Regions from separate parts of the Homo sapiens genome. Here all the other regions are linked to region 3. Evidence: fine-mapped expression QTL. A gene starts in region 3. Each other region holds a variant in brackets. All regions are shown on one strand. Distances are from middle to middle. Region 1 overlaps SMARCE1 (SWI/SNF related BAF chromatin remodeling complex subunit E1). Region 2 has its middle 38 kb from the start of SMARCE1. Region 3 holds the start of SMARCE1 (SWI/SNF related BAF chromatin remodeling complex subunit E1).

The links.
Region 1: its variant is fine-mapped to the expression of SMARCE1 in whole blood (TOPMed, PIP above 0.99). The same link has a PIP of 0.9 or more in blood mononuclear cells and monocytes.
Region 2: its variant is fine-mapped to the expression of SMARCE1 in hypothalamus (GTEx, PIP 0.99).

The regions. Positions count from the first base shown.
Region 1 is chr17:40,624,749-40,627,541 of GRCh38, forward strand. SMARCE1 (SWI/SNF related BAF chromatin remodeling complex subunit E1) reads right to left here. Exons shown (of 11, transcript NM_003079.5): 11 at 214-2,793. Among named protein-coding and RNA genes, the nearest start is that of SMARCE1, 22 kb to the right of the region's middle. The variant G/A (reference allele first, on the strand shown) is at 1,343.
Region 2 is chr17:40,608,681-40,611,353 of GRCh38, forward strand. No RefSeq gene overlaps it. Among named protein-coding and RNA genes, the nearest start is that of SMARCE1, 38 kb to the right of the region's middle. The variant T/C (reference allele first, on the strand shown) is at 1,088.
Region 3 is chr17:40,646,169-40,648,973 of GRCh38, forward strand. SMARCE1 (SWI/SNF related BAF chromatin remodeling complex subunit E1) reads right to left here and starts at 1,650. Exons shown (of 11, transcript NM_003079.5): 1 at 1,605-1,650. RefSeq lists a silencer at 1,889-2,183.

The DNA.
Region 1 (2,793 bases), 21 kb before region 3:
ATTATCTGCAGCTACTGTCTCAGTTTTATGTAAAGAGTATTTATCATTTGGGAATTTCCCCTCCCCATATAATACTTTTGACTCCTGAATGCATGCAAAAGAGCTGTAAGAAACTTTCTGGTGCTAAATGAGAAAATGTGTGAACATAAATGAGCTAGTTTAACTAAAAGTTCACCAAAATGTATTTTAAACATCAGGCTCTTAAAAACTCAATAGTTTGAAATTTGCATTTTAATCAGCGTTTGGCTAACAATATGAGATAAACTATTAGAGAAGTGTAGGTCATTCTGGCAAATAGAAAGTTCCATCATTTCACACTTAGAAAGCTGCCACGAAGAGCTTATTCTTGGAGTATAAAATGCAGAATTTAGGTTAAGCCAGTCATTTTGTAGATGAAATTGTACACTGGCAATTTCTTATGGTTCAACCTAATAGTAAAACATTTATAAACAATTGTATCATTACAAATACATTTAGACATCGTTTTCTGCTAAACTCAGTATTTTCCTTTCCATCCTGATCAAAGAAACATTATTGCAGTAAGCCACATTATAATTCAGCACGATTTCTTCTAAAAAGGCTCCGAGTTCCTTTGAGCTTGTTATTGTACAGTGGATTTTTCATTTGCAAAGACGTTAAGCCCTCCAAATGTGCAAATCATGAAGTCAGTTGTTGTTCCAGCAAGGTTTGCCCAGCGGTAAAAAACAAGATAAAACTAATGCACTAGCTGAAACCAGGTGGGGAGACCATGTGTGGTAGTGCTTGGGGGTGGAGGGAAACTATTTCTGAAATGAGGACTTAAAGTATAATACCAGCTTCACTGCCTGTTCACGAGAAACCAAAGCTTCAATTTAACTGCAGGCAATAGGAGTTTCACACTGTCAGCACCAACTGTCTAAAATCCAAAACTAGTATCTAAATGTGTAGGATCAAAACCAAAAATCTGGAGGGATCTAGTTAAACTTCAATATGCATGACCCCAGATTCCCCTTTAAAATATAGTCCAAGTATTTTATCTTTTCCATAGGGCATTGACATTATTGTGTTAATGTGAAATAGCTATTTACCTCTCCAAACCTCGGCTTTATAGAATAGATAATTATCACATCCTGTAGGAGAGCCATTTGAAAAGACAGCCTTGTTTACAGACAGGAGAAGTTACAGAATTTAAAACTGTTAGAAAATTGGGGGACTATGGGGCTGGGCGCGGTGGCTCACGCCTGTAATCCCAGCACTTTGGGAGGCAGAGGAGGGTGGATCAGGAGGTCAAGAGTTCGAGACCAGGCTGGCAAACATGGCAAAATCCTGTCTCTACTAAAAATACAAAAATTAGCCGGGCGTG[G/A]TGGCGGGCGCCTGTAATCCCAGCTACTCAGGAGGCTGAGGCAGGAGAATTGCTGAAACCCAGGAGCTGGATGTTGCAGTGAGCCGAGATGGCGCCATTACACTCCAGCCTGGGCAACAGTCAGACTGTCTCAAAAAAAAAGGAAAATTGGGTGACTATCGAGGATTCCCCTCTCCCATTTGTTAAAAAAAATTAACAAAATTTAGGCCCTCAGACTTTATGCATTCATACTCAAAATAAATGCACTAAAAATCAAGGAGCAGTAAGGGCACCAAGAAAGAGCAGTTTGATCTATTTTATAATTAAAACAGGCTCGAGTTCAAGCTACTTGCCCAGCACCTTTTGGGACATGGGAAAAAAACAAAGACCTCTACCATATCCCACATTCTCTAAACTGAGAACCATCTCAAACATCAAGTCTACATATATCACTCTGACCAAGTGGATTTTTACATCAATCTTCCCCTGCTGAGGTTCAGAGCTGTCAAATCCCAACTGAGGCCGGGCACAGTGGCTCACGCCTGTAATCCCAGCACTTTGGGAGACTGAGGCAGGCGGATCACCTGAGGTCACGAGTTCAAGATCAGCCTGGCTAACATGGTGAAACCCCATCTCTACTAAAAAATACAAAAATTAACCGGGCATGGTGGCGAGAGCCTGTAATCCCAGCTGCTCTAGAGGCTGAGGCAGAGAGAATTGCTTGAACCTGGGAGGTGGAGGTTGCAGTGAGCTGAGATCGCCACCACTGCACTCCAACCTGGGCGACAGATTGAGACGTCTCCCATCTGACTTAATTCCCTCATCAACTGATTGCCAGTGTTGTATGGACAGGCTTGGTCTGGATAGACTTGTCTTCCCACTGCTATTTCCAGCCGGGCAAAAGAACCACTTCCATTCTCTTAGAGCTTTCGATACCACAGTAAATAACCTGGTATCTTGCTGGGGCAGTTTTCCACCCATATTAAACTACATCTGCCCCATTTTGACTACTAGAAAATGTATCAAAGAGGCTGTCCAATTTGTCTGAGATGAGATGGCTGAAGTTCTTAGCCAAATAATGGCCAAAGCTCAAAACAGATCTATTTGATACAAATTCGTTCTTTGACACACAAGGAAACAGATGTCAAGAGTTGTTTCCACCCAGTATCAAGCTTCCTCCCCTCCTCTCTCAGGAGGCTGAACACACATTCCTAGTCACTAATGTGCTATGAACTGAATAGCAGTGAATCCACTTAAATTAACTCATGCTGGTACAGAGTCCTCTCCATATAGGCACAGGACTTAACATTTATCATTTAGCCATTCTTTCAAAGATAATTCAAACGTTACAGATTTCTCCATATTCCTGTTAATGTAGAAACATATTCCCTTTACTTTTGGAATCAAAGACCAACTTCCATATGTGACAATGACTATAATGTAAGAAAACTGATTTTCACAAGTGTCTTGTA
Region 2 (2,673 bases), 38 kb before region 3:
CAGTGGTGGAATTAAAAAAGACAAATGAGACCCAGACCTCACTCTTAGGAAGCTTAGCAGGGGAGAAGGGTGAGCAAAGGTTACTCTAAACAAGGCCAAATGACACAAAAGCCATAGCCACAAAAGCCTGGGTGGAGGGGAAGTTTGGGAATGGGCGGTTTCGTGGCAGGCCTGGCATTGGAGCTGGTCTTTGAAAGATGGGTGGTATCTTAGTTTCCTAGGGTTGCTGTAAACAATACCACAGACTCAGTGGCTTAAACAACAGACATTTATTTTCTTATAGTTCTAGAGGCCAGAAGTCCAAGATCAAGGGGTTTCCAGCATTGTTTCTTCTGGTTTCTTCTGAGGACACTCTCTGTGGCTTGCAGATGGCCACCTTCTTGCTATGTCCTCATGTGGTGGTCTGTGTTGTCTGGGTCCTGATCTCCTCTTCCTTTTTTTTTTTTTTCCCCAAGATCGAGTCTTGTTCTATCATCCAGGCTGGAGTGCAATGGCGAGATCTTGGCTCACTGCAACCTCTGCCTCCTGGGTTCAAGCGATTCTCCTGCCTCAGCCTCCCTAGTAGCTGGGATTTCAGGCATGTGCCACCACGCCCCGCTAATTTTTTGTATTTTTAGTAGAGATGGGGTTTCACCCTGTTGGCCAGGCTGGTCTCAAACTCCTGACCTCAGGTGATCCACCCACCTTGGCCTCCCAAAGTGCTGGGATTACAGGCATGAGCCACCACACCCGGCCCCGATCTCCTCTTCCTATAAGGATGCCAGTCATATTGGATGAGAGCCCACCATTGACTTCATTAAGGTAAAATGAGGTCATATCCATGGGCCCCAATCCAATATGACTGGTGTTCTTTATCTCCAGGAAGGCCTTGTCTCCAAATACAGTCCCATTATGAGGTACTGGGGGTTAGGAATTCAATGTATGAATTTGAGTGGGGAGACACAATGAAGCCTGTAACAGATAGGATGTTTTCTTTTCACATTTGTTCCATTACAAAACTACTCACTGTGGCCAGGTGCAGTGGTTCATGCCTGTAATCCCAACATTTTGGGAGGCAGAGGCAGGAGGATTGCTTGAGCCCAGGAAT[T/C]TGAGACCAGCTTGGGCAACATAGGAAGACCCAGTCTGTACAAAAATTAATACATAAATTAACCAGGCATAGTAGTGCATGCCTGTGGTCTCAGCTACTTGGGAGACTGATGTGGGAGGATTGCTTGAGCAACCCAGAAGGTTGAGGCTACAGTGAGCTGTAATCGTGCCACTGCACTCCAGACTGGACAACAGAGTGAGACCCTGTCTGTCTCAAAAAATAAAACATAAAAACACCCAAAAGTACTCATTGTAAAATGTTGTGAAATGTTGAAAAGCACAAGAGGGAAAATAAAAACCCTTTAGAGATGACCATATCTGTCCATGAAAAAAACAGTTTAAAATGGGTTTATACTTATAACACCTGTTGTTTGGTAAACTATTTTTATAGTATAAATATGTCATGAACTATTAAATTTTCTACCACAACATCACTTTTAATGCCTGCCTCATGGTCCATGATAAGGGTGTATTGAATGTGTTTAACCAGTGGAGAGTGGGGTTTTGATTAGCCAAGACTGGGATGGAGAAGTAGCAGCCTCATGGAAGGGAATGATGTGAGCTCCAAGGGCACAGTAGTTGGTTACACTTCAGCAAACTGCAACCAATGAGAACAGTTCTCAGAATCAGGTCGATTACACTTATAAGAAGATGTAATTTTTTGTGTGTGTTGGGGGTGGTCAGGGAAATAGACTGTGGACATGAGAGTGCTGCTGCTTCTGAGAAGTCCTGAAGGGTCCTGAGAATGAGCCAGCTCCATGATTTATGTCTGACTAATCAGTCTCAACTAGACCTGATGGGGGCAACTGAAAGTCAAAATTTGACTCTGCAGGGTGAGACTGAACTCGATGAACATAGTTTCATAGTTTTAATTGAGATGCTGCTTTTTAATGAGTGACTGTTAGTGATGAGTGATTATTGCTTTTCCCATCACTCACTTCCCTCACTCCCCTCTTTCCTTCCCCACCCTTTATCCCAGATGAGGAAAAATCATTGGTAAAACAAAACAAAGAGAAAGGGATTTAGTGATAAAGACTCACCTTGTTTCACACTGAAGACTGAAGGATCTAAAGGAGAAGTTCAGGTTGGACCAGGAGGGCTTCTAGGGGAGAGAAGAGGCAGAGAGAGCAGGGAGAGAGCACAAGTCCCCAGCTGGAGTGCAGTGGTGCAATCTCGGCTCACTGCAGCCTCGACCTCCTGGGCTCAAGCGATCCTCCCACCTCAGCCTCCCAAGTAGCTGGGAATATAGGCTCTCACCACCATGCCCAGCTAATCCTTTTTTTTTTTTTTTTTTTGTAGAGATAGGGTCTCACTATTTTGCCCAGGCTTATCTCAAACTCCTGGGCTCAAGTGATCTCCAGCCTTGGCCTCCTTAAATGCTGAGATTACAGGCATGAGCCACTGTGCCTGGCCCCACTGTGAATTTTGAATGATCCAATAGGTGATTCAATAGGGAAAAAATGCTTATTCCTGTTAATTTCAACAACTGAGCCTTTCAAGTTGTGTTTATATAGCCAGCATGGACTTAGGTTTCATTTGCCCTACTGTGCAAGTGGAAGAAGAGGAATGTGGCAGTGACTCCTGATT
Region 3 (2,805 bases):
AGAATAGAAAGTGATGTATTATCAGGGTCCAACGCAACAAGGCCTACCAGATACTGACAGCTCCCTGATCAGCAACTGTATCATGCTTTTGGGATAACAATTTTTATTAAAATTAGGCAGCATTTTATTCCTGGAAGCAGTGCAAAAGGTAATTGGTATGACAATGAACTTCACATTCTCTTATAATGGTAAATAGCTTCATAAATGCTGGGAATAAATTTTGAGAGTCTACCTGAAAAACTTTTATTCATCATTCACAGCCCATTTCAAAATTTTTCTCCTCAAGGGAACTTTCTTGATACATTACCTGGGCAGAATTAACTGCTCCCCCATCTGTATTCCTATACAGTTTACACAGATCTATATTATTATAACTTTTTTTTAACTTATCAATATGGCTAGATTGTATGCTACTTGGAAAGAGGGACCATGTCAGGACCTAGCTCAATTCTTAGGAAATTTTTTCCTAGTATTACCAGCTCACAACATAACCAGGCACATGTGAGCTTGTTCTTTACATCAACATACATCACAAATAGTGAGGTACAAAAAGACAAAAATTCATCTTTGGAAAGAAGGCAAATAAACTTCTATGACTATTGGAGGTATTTGCAACCAAACATGTGGAATAGATCTGATTTTTCGCTTCTATTATTAATTTTAAGGAAATTCCCTGGAGCATAAGGAATGAGTCCTGGTGTGGAAAGAAACAGCTCATTTTCTCAATGGTCCAACCTGAGTCTTTCCCTCTTAAAGAACAGCCAGAAACCTTTGACTCTGGTGTAGATTTCCTTTCTGCTCACATTAAGGGAGCTGTCAACATCCAGCAGGCCTCGCTGCAGGGGACCCTGACAACTAACATAAGCTCCCTGTACGTTATACTTCATTGTTAATACTTTAAAATTATTGCTCTCTTTTGCTAGAATACAAAATTTAAGAGTGGGCTTGTACATTTGTCCACCGTTGGATCCATCTTTGGTGCCTGGCATAAAAATAAATACCCGATAAATATTTGTTCAAGAAATACTTTATACGGGGTACGCTTATGACACTATTTCGCTTAACACTCACAAGTACTTTATATGTACAGCTATCCCCATTTTACAGATGAAACAAGGGAGTCTCGGAAAGTTTAAACAACTTGTCTGAAGCCATATGCAGCCAGGAAGTGCCAAAGTTGGGTTTCAAACCCAGGCCAAACTATTTCAGAGCTCTGCTCGTCCTCAAGTCGCTGCCTGAACCAATGGGGGAACCTTCTGCCCGGGTGGGGGGTGAACCACGGACCTGCCTTGCCCACGGCTTCCTGAGGTCGCTCTCTTTGTCTTGGAGAATGTACTTTACTAGCAACTCCCCTAAAACGGGGTATTCACAGGTGCTTTGACCAATTTCGGGGGACTGGCCTTGCCTCCAAGGAGGGGGCCCCAGATGGGACTCCCTCCCAACCCTCGCTCTGCTAGGCCTCAAGGAGGCCTCAACCGGCTCCTGGCTCTGGCCCCACGGCCAAGGCTGAACCCCAGCAACCCCCGGGAACTCGGGGTCTAGCCAAGCGGGGACACCACGACTTGCACCCACCGACCCGGTCCGTCCCACTTGGAAACACTCACCCGCGGGCAGAAAAAGCGCCCGCAGCTCCGGCTTCGCTTCCCTTTGTCCCGCGCTCGCCCCGCCCCTCGCGTCCGGAGCTTCCGCACTCGCACTTTCCACACTCTTCTTAATTTTTTTTTTTTTCCGGGCCCCACCCGACCCTCTTTAGAAAAACTAACCTTCTAGTGAAGATGCGGTGATGCTTAGCACACTCAGGGATTTTTTTCAGGACCCATTGGATCCTCAAAACTCCCCGAATTTTGATACTTTCCCAGCCGGGCGCTGATTCGTCACGGCGAAGAGGGCCGAGGAGGCCCGACCTAACACAGAATAGGCCTGGGTTTAGCGGCTGTGAGGAGCCGGAGCCGCCGCAGCGACCGAGGAAGTGGCGGGAGGTGCCGAGCCTTGCGGAGGGGCGGTGGGGGCCGCGGTGGGAGACGGCGGATGGCGCTCAGCGCGAGGCCGCGGAACCACTGTGGCAGCAAGCAGTTCGGCCAGACTCCCGCTGAGCCCGCTCCTGGAGGGGCCCTCCCCGACTCCGGTCTTGCTTTCCTTTAGGCTGTGGGTCAGAGTCTACACTTCACTAAACCTGGGATGGAGGCGTGGAGGACTTGCTTCGCGGCGTTTGCGTCCTCGCAGGCGCCTCGCAGGGCTTCCTGCCCTCACGGCGGGGGAGTAGCTTTGGCGAAAATCAGCACGAGTTCTGCAGTTTTTCCAAGCGCTTTTAGGGTGTAATCGTCCCAGGTTTCTAAGCCAAGGCCCGGAGAGTTGACCCCCTCGCAACAGCTTGTGTGTCCTTGCAGCGCCGCGGGTGCCACCTGGTCTCCGCCTCAGCGCTGCCTCGGCTCCTTCGGTTCCCACCAGCGGGAACGACCGTCCCCACTTTCAGCTTAAACTCATCTGTCCTTCTGGATCCAGCTCAGAGGTCTCTTTGTGATGCCCTCCTGGAACTTCCCCCCTAGTAATCCTTCCTTTGTATTCCCGTGGCTCTTTGATAATAATGGTTGGAGTCCTGAACCCGACCCTTTGTATCGGACCGTGTTTGTCATCTCCAGTGCTTTATGAAGGCCTTGAAAGCAAGGTTCAGCCGTCTGTATTGGTCATCTTCCCATTGCCAGTGCCTACGAAGGGCTTGACCCATTCATTGTTAGACGCTCAGTAAGTGTGTATTGAGGCAGCCCTCTGTGCCACTCCAGGGCTCTTTCCACTAAATCATGAGTA